Homo sapiens: one gene and its partner. The protein of the gene in region 1 purifies or fractionates together with the protein of each later gene. This does not show direct contact. Each region holds a gene or a part of one and is shown on either strand. Other genes may lie near its edges.

Evidence for each region. The genes of interacting proteins can lie anywhere in the genome.
Region 2: the proteins of PPP2R3C (region 1) and CCDC77 purify together in Homo sapiens (affinity purification with mass spectrometry; one large-scale study listed by BioGRID and IntAct). This does not show direct contact.

The regions. Positions count from the first base shown.
Region 1 is NC_000014.9:35,108,491-35,111,990, forward strand, and holds part of PPP2R3C (serine/threonine-protein phosphatase 2A regulatory subunit B'' subunit gamma), read right to left. Parts: intron 2,153-3,500; exon of another isoform or gene 2,140-2,152; coding exon 2,035-2,139; intron 1,442-2,034; coding exon 1,329-1,441; intron 1-1,328. UniProt on the Homo sapiens protein: May regulate MCM3AP phosphorylation through phosphatase recruitment. May act as a negative regulator of ABCB1 expression and function through the dephosphorylation of ABCB1 by TFPI2/PPP2R3C complex.
Region 2 is NC_000012.12:400,479-404,443, reverse strand, and holds the start of CCDC77 (coiled-coil domain-containing protein 77), read right to left. Parts: upstream 2,801-3,965; 5' UTR 2,760-2,800; intron 1-2,759.

The DNA.
Region 1 (3,500 bases):
CAAGAGATCGAGACCATTTTGGCCAACATGGTGAAACCCCGTCTCTAGTAAAAATACAAAAAGTATTTGTATTGGGTATTTATATTGTATTATATTGTATTTATATTGGCCCAGCCAATATTTGAGGCATTTAAAATGCTTAACATATTCTTTTGTTAATACAATAATACTTGGGAGGCTGAGGCAGGAGAATCACTTGAACCCAGGAGGCGGAGGTTATAGTGAGCTGAGATTGCGCCACTCCCCTGCAGCCTAGCGACAGAGCAAGACTCCATCTCAAAAAAAAAGATAAATATATATATATAAACAGAGATTTGCTCTGTTGCCCTGACTGATCTCGAACTCCTGGCCTCAAGTGATCCACCTGCCTTGGCCTCCCAAAGCACTGGAATTACAAACGTGAGGCACCATGCCTAGCCTAAGTCATAAATGTTTGCATTCTTTTTTTTTTTAATTAAAAGTTTTTTTTATTTTGCAGAGATGGGCACGTGAGCCACAGTGCCTGGCCTTGCATTCTTTTTTGTTTGCTTTCGTCTGTCTTAAGGCTGAAAGTGTCATAAACTATATTATTTCTTTTTTTTTTTTGAGATGGAGTCTTGCTCTTTTGCCAAGCTGGAGTGCAGTGGCACGATCTCGGCTCACTGCAACCTCCGCCTCCAGGGTTCAAGCGATTCTCCTGCCTCAGCCTCCTGAGTAGCTGGGATTACAGGCACACGCCACCACGCCCAGCTAATTTTTGTATTTTTAGTAGAGACGGGGTTTCACCATGTTGGTCAGGATGGTCTTGTTCTCTTGACCTCGTGATCCGCTCACCTCAGCCTCCCAAAGTGCTGGGATTACAGGCATGAGCCACCACACCTGGCTATATTATTTATTTTAATAACTTCATACCAATGTGATTTTTTGACTGTAAATAATTTTATTAAATTTAATTAGTAACTTAAATGGACTCAAATGTCATTCCATTTACTTCATTTAATATTTGAGGATTTGTTTATTTTTTTTAAAGGTAAGGTCTTGCTCTATCGCCCAGGCTGGAGTGCAGTGGCTTAATCACAGCTCATCCTCCCGGGCTCAAGCAATTCTCCCACCTCAGCCTCCGGAGTAGCTACAGGTGTACGCCCCCACACCCAGATAATTTTTTTAGTAGAGACAAGATCTCCCTAAGTTGCCCAGGCTGGCCTCAAACACCCCAGCTCAAGCAATCCTCTCACCTCAGCCTCCAAAACTGCTGGGATTACAGGTGTGAGCCACTGTGCCCAGCCAATATTTGAGGCATTTAAAATGCTTAACATAACACATTCTTTTGTTAATTATATTATTCTTACTTGCACTTTGCTCCAGCCTTTTCACCAACCTTCAAAAAGTTTTCGTAATTGATCATCGCTTCCTCTCCAATCATAGGTGGTGTCTGGTGTTTGTCCAGCAAAAACCATAAGTTCTTAAGAGAATTGTGGAAGTGAAGATGTTGTAAGTTAAAAACAACAAGATTTTAATATGTAGTTAAATGTGTGCTTTCCACTAAAATGAGAGTTTGTTGGCAGAGTCAATATTAAGATGAATCTCATGCCCTATTATCCTTTTGATTACTAACAATAAAAATAACATTTATTGAGTGCCTACTAAGCTTTTGATATACACTGCCTCTTTAATCCACATCTCTATGATATAGTTAGCTATCCCTACTTTAGAGATGATAATCGAAGCACAGAGATGTTAAGTCCATTGCCTAAAGTCATATAGCAGGGCTGGGATTTGAACCTCTGTAGTCTGACCCTACAGCAGTGGTTCTCAACCTTGGCTGCACATTAGAATCACCTAGGGCCTTAAACAAAAATAACAAACAACACTATGTTTGGGGTACATGACCCATGCAAACTCAGCGGCTGCTTCTGGTGGGAACTGCTGCTTCAGAGCCTATGTAGTACCACTCTGTAGTACGGACTCCATTAGGCACCAAGAAATCCTGCATGATTTAAGTAGCACAAATGAGAAATGGTTAACATCTAAAGCAACTTTTTGCTTTGTTCTTACCTGTAATTCTTCATTATCTAACAGTTCTCTGCTTTTTCTTTGTAGAAAGACAGCTCTTGATTCCTCTCTTAATTTCTGTAGTAAGACTTCATCTTCAGCAGGCAGCTGAAAATACAAGGTAAATTTCTACATGTAAATTTTAGACTACTGGATCCTATAAAATGTATGTGGCCTCATAAAATAACTGTATGCCACCGCCTCGAATTATTTCTTGTATCTCACCTTAATTGTGCTTAACATTTGTTTAACAAAAACTGATCCACAGAGAATCGGTGATCAGAAAGGCTGGATCTCTGCCCTGAAAAAGCCATTCTAAAAGCTAGTCTAGACCAAGTTTCATTTTATTTTCTTAAAGCACTGTGTTTCTATTGTCACCTTAGAATGACACAGAATTGGCTGGGCATGCTGGCTTCCTTAGAATGATATAGAATTGGCTGGGGGCAGTGGCTCACACCCGTAATCCCAGCACTTTGGGTGGCCGAGGCAGGCGGATCATGAAGTCAAGAGATCGACCATCCTGGCCAACACTGTGCAACCCCGTCTCTACTAAAAATACAAAAATTAGCTGGGCATGGTGGCATGTGCCTGTAGTCCCAGCTACTCAGGAGGCTGAGGCAGGAGAATTGCTTAAACCCAGGAGGCGGAGGTTGCAGTGAGCTGAGATCACGCCACTACACTCCAGCCTGGCAACAGAGCGAGACTCCATCTACCAAAAAAAAAAAAAAAAAAAAAAGAATGATATAGAAGAATTAAATGAGGATTAACTGGAGATTGACAATTTCAAAACCACCTTTGCAAAATTATAACAGTGACAAAATGATGACAGTGAAAGAGATCTGACCTAACCAACTCCATCTTGTTTTTAACCTCCAATCTGCCCTTGGTCATTCCTGGGCATGGGCCAAGATATTAATAAATTTGGGAGAAATTTAGTTTATGATTTAAATGATAATAGCTCATCCCAAAACTAAACTGCCTTTGTAAAACTAATGAAAGGACACCAGGTCAGGAGGATGCGAAGGACCAGAATTCTGCTAAGATGCAGGTCAGTTAAATGATTAGCAGTTATTATTCCAGAGGGCACAAAAATTTGCAACATCCTCAATTACTCCTGTAAATAACATCACTATTGTAGTACACAGGACTGGCCTTTTGAGATGTCTTTTCAGGCTTTTGCACTTCTGACTACCCAATGGCCCCTCTCAGACCAGCCACTCCTCTGTGGCCCCAACCCAGAAGCAGACTCAGCACGCAAGGACCAGGACTGTTTTTCTATATCCCTGTGATTCCATCCCCAACCAATCAGCAGTACCCATTCCCTAGCCCCTGCCTACCAAACTATCCTTGAAAAACCCTAGCCTCCAACTTTTCAAGAAGGCTGATTTGAGTAATAATAAAACTCCTGTCTCCCATTTAGCTGTCTCCATGTATATGAAATTATTTCTCTCTTGCAATTCCCATCTTGA
Region 2 (3,965 bases), on another chromosome or scaffold:
GCAGACATCCAAATTAATAAATTCAATTGCTCTTTTCTGTTTCTATCCTCCTCCATCCAATAGTTACTCCTTCACTTGTATTCTTAATTAGATAGTGCCAACTACCTATTTATTTATTTATTTTTTGAGACAGAGTCTCACTCTGTTCAGCCCAGGCTGGAGTGCAGTGGCACGATCTTGGCTCACTGCAACCTCCACCTCCTGGGTTCAAGTGATTCTCCTGCCTCAGCCTCCCCAGTGGCTGGGATTACAGGCACCTGCCACTGTGGCTAATTTTTTTTGTATTTTTAGTAAAGACAGGGTTTCGCCATGTTGGCCAGGCTGGTCTCGAACTCCTGACCTCAGATGATCCACCCACCTCTGCCTGCCAGTGTTGGGATTACAGGCGTGAGCCACTGTGCCTGGTAGTGCCAACTACCCTTTAAAAATATATCACTTTGGGACCGGACCTTGGCATGGCCAGGCCATGGCAAGACCCTGTCTTTACCAAAATTTTAAAAATTAGCTGGGCACAGTGGCAATGTAGTCCCACCTGCTTGGTGCGAGGATCACTTCAGCCTGAGGGTTCAAGGCTGCAGCGAGCAGTGATCGTGCCACTGCACTCTAGCCTGGACAACAGCGCAAGACCCTGTCTCAAAAAACAATTAAAATAGGCTGGGCACAGTGGCTCATGCCTGTAATGCCAGCACTTTGGGAGGCCAAGGTGAATGGACTGCTGGAGGTCAGGAGTTTGAGACCAGCCTGGGCAACATGGTGAAACCCTGTCTCTACAAAAATTACAGAATTAGCTGGGAGTGGTGGCACGTGCCTGTAGTCCCAGCTATTCAGGAGGCTGAGGCAGAGGATTGCTTGAGCTTGGGAGGCAGAGGCTGCACTGAGCTGAGATTGCCCCACTGCTCTCCAGCCTAGGTGACAGAGTGAGACCTTACCTGGAAAAAATAATAATAAAAATAAATATTGCTTTGTAGTTGAGAATGTGGGCTCTGATATCAGACTTGGGTTTGAGTCAAAGCCCTGCCTCTTATTAGCTGTGTACCTCAGGCAAGTTATCCTCTCTAAATTTCAGTTACTTCTATGTCATAGGTTGGTGTACGGATATAAGGCCGAGGGACAGTGTTTGACACATATATAAGCACTCAGTAAATGTGGACTATTATTATTATTGACAATTTTACTCCCTTGGCTCAGAGGTTCTGTCTTCAAGTTTCTTTATCATTTCCTCTAACCATTTCTTTGGGAACATCATTATTCCTCCTGTTTTTATTATTAACTCTGTCATCTAAAACACTACATGGCATACAGTAAGTAACAATTACATGTTGAATAAATAAACGACATCTCTTTCAACCTCTTGATTTGAATTAACAAAAATGTAGTGGACATTTTCACCCATAGTCCCACTGGCACTTGAAACGTTTAACTTAAAAAAGAAATCACTCAAGTTAGGTATTTTTTTAGCATCTCAAAGCTAACATTTCCTAAACCTAACACATCATCTTTTTATCCAAACATGCCCCTTCTGACTTTCCTATTTTAGTTACTAATTCAGCGTTTCCAAGCAACCGGGAGTTGGCAACTTAAATTCATCATTTGATCACTCATTCTTCTGAACCTCCTGTCTAACCATATGAATATCTTGTATATTTTATCTCCACAATGACCATGTTAATTCAGAGTCTCAATACTTCTTACCCACACCATTACAACACCTTAACGGTTCTACCTACTCCTTGCGTCTCCTGGACCATTTTCTTTAATAAAATACATCAGTAGCACCTCATAGCCTAAAGCATTAAATCCAATTTGTTAGCCTAGAATTCATGGCTTTCTACATAAGGGCCAAACCTAACTTTCCTGCCTTATTTCTCTCTACTCTCCTAAATGTACCGTTTCCAGATAACTTTCCTGCCTCCATACCTTTGTTCATGAGCTTCCCTCTAGCTGGAACACAACTCCCTCCACAACCCTCATAATTTCACTTAACAAAATCTAGTCTGTACATGAAAACTCATCTTAAATACCACCTCCTTTTTCTCTTTCCTGAGTCTCCCCATCCAAAATGATTTAGCAAAAATGATCTAAGTGCAAAAGAACTGCCTTTGAAATTATCTACAAGTCAACATATTAGAGTGCTTTATTGCTATCGTTTCTCCCATGCTAGCGTGCGCTCCCTACAGACAGAAATCGCGTCTTACTCTTCATTGCCTCTTCCAAAGGAACAATGCCTTTGTTTATAGGTAAATTAACGGGTTTCAGCTAGGGTCTCTGCACCTATCTCCAATACCCTTGCTTAGATATATTCTTATAGCTTGTCTACTAACAATTAACATTTGTGTAGCACTTTGAATTTTTTTCTTTTAGCCACGTGACAAATCTGTACAATTTATTATCCCAACAACCGTTCAGTATTTTCACTATCCCTTATTTCACAAATGAGGAAACTGAGAGCTAGACCAGCGTGGGGTTAGAGTACACCGGAACGCATCTCCAGGGCGCCCGAATCCCGTACTCCTTTTCCCACTTCATCCCATTCTCGACCGCCTCACTGCTCCAGGTCCCAACGCTCCAGCACTCCTGAGGTCTCTCCCTTTGCACATTGGAGCTTTCCTCCTCCGGTCCCCAGCCCCTCCACGGACACCACATTCAGGCTCACGTCCTCTCCTCCGCACTGCTTCCGCAGTTACTTCTCCCTAACCAGATTTTCTTCCCAAGGCTTCTTACCTAACCCCTTCACCCCAAACCCGAAACTCTATACTCACGACACACTAAGACTCCGAGTCAGGGAACGCAACTGAAAAACAAAAGTCAAACCAAGGAGCGGCGCGGCGCCACTGAGCGTCCCTGAATCCGTGCAATCGCGAAGAAGTTTACATGGCCCTTTGGAATGCGCACCAATGGGAAGGGCCTTCACACAGAGGCCCGCCCCCATCTCGCCCCTCCTCGCGGTGCTCCCGACCGCGCAGAGGTCTCTGGGAAATGTAGTTTTCTTCTGCCTGGAGCTCTGCGCGGGGCGACGCAGCTGGGCTGCAACCCGCTCCTCCAGGGACGGGTAGTGTGACGTTTGGGGTCAGAACGCACCACTTTCGGGCACCCCCACTTAAGATTGCTCAACTGCTTTGAGCTCAGGTACTTCGCGTTCATGGTACATATATGTTGTAATTTCCAAGCTTGTCTCAAGAGATAAAGATTCTAAGAAAAGTTTCTTCTTCCATGACCGGGTGGCCTAGAGCCAGGATAGGACCTGAGGTTCAGTTTCTACGGTCAGGGGACTATGTATTAAAATTCTACTATTTGTTCCATAGCAAACACTGCTTCCTTTTCCGGAGAAATGTAAGACACTGGGCTTTAATGATAAAAGCAAGTTCAAAATCCATTATGGTCTTATCTTTCCAGAAAGCAAGGTGTAAAGGTGGGGGAAAAGCACTTTCGTCTCAGAATTACAGCTACTGGTATGGAAAAGCTGGGGCCCTTCGCTGGTGTGAGTCCTAAGGATGTCTAAATGGAACGTGCATCTGCTACAGGCTCGCACTTTCCTTTATTGCGCTTCCCAGGTAACTGTTTTTACAAATGTAAGGTTTGTGGCAACTCTGCATGGAACCAAATCTATCTGCGCCATTTTTCCTACAGCACAGGCTTACTATGTGTCTCTGCACCACATTTGGTAATTTTCACAATATTTCAAACTTTTTCATAATTATTGTATATGTTATGCTGATCTGTTATCCTTTATATTACTATTATAATTGTTTAGGGGCACCATGAACCATGCCCATATAAGATGGCAAACTTAATTCATAAATGTTGTGGATGTTTTAACTGCTCCACAGACCAGCAGTCTCCCTGCCTTTCTCCCTCTCTTCTTGCCTCCTTATTCCTGTGATACAACAATATTGAAATTAGACCAATTAACAATCCTACAGTGGGGGTTCAAGTGAAAGGAAGAGTCACACATCTCTTACTTTAAA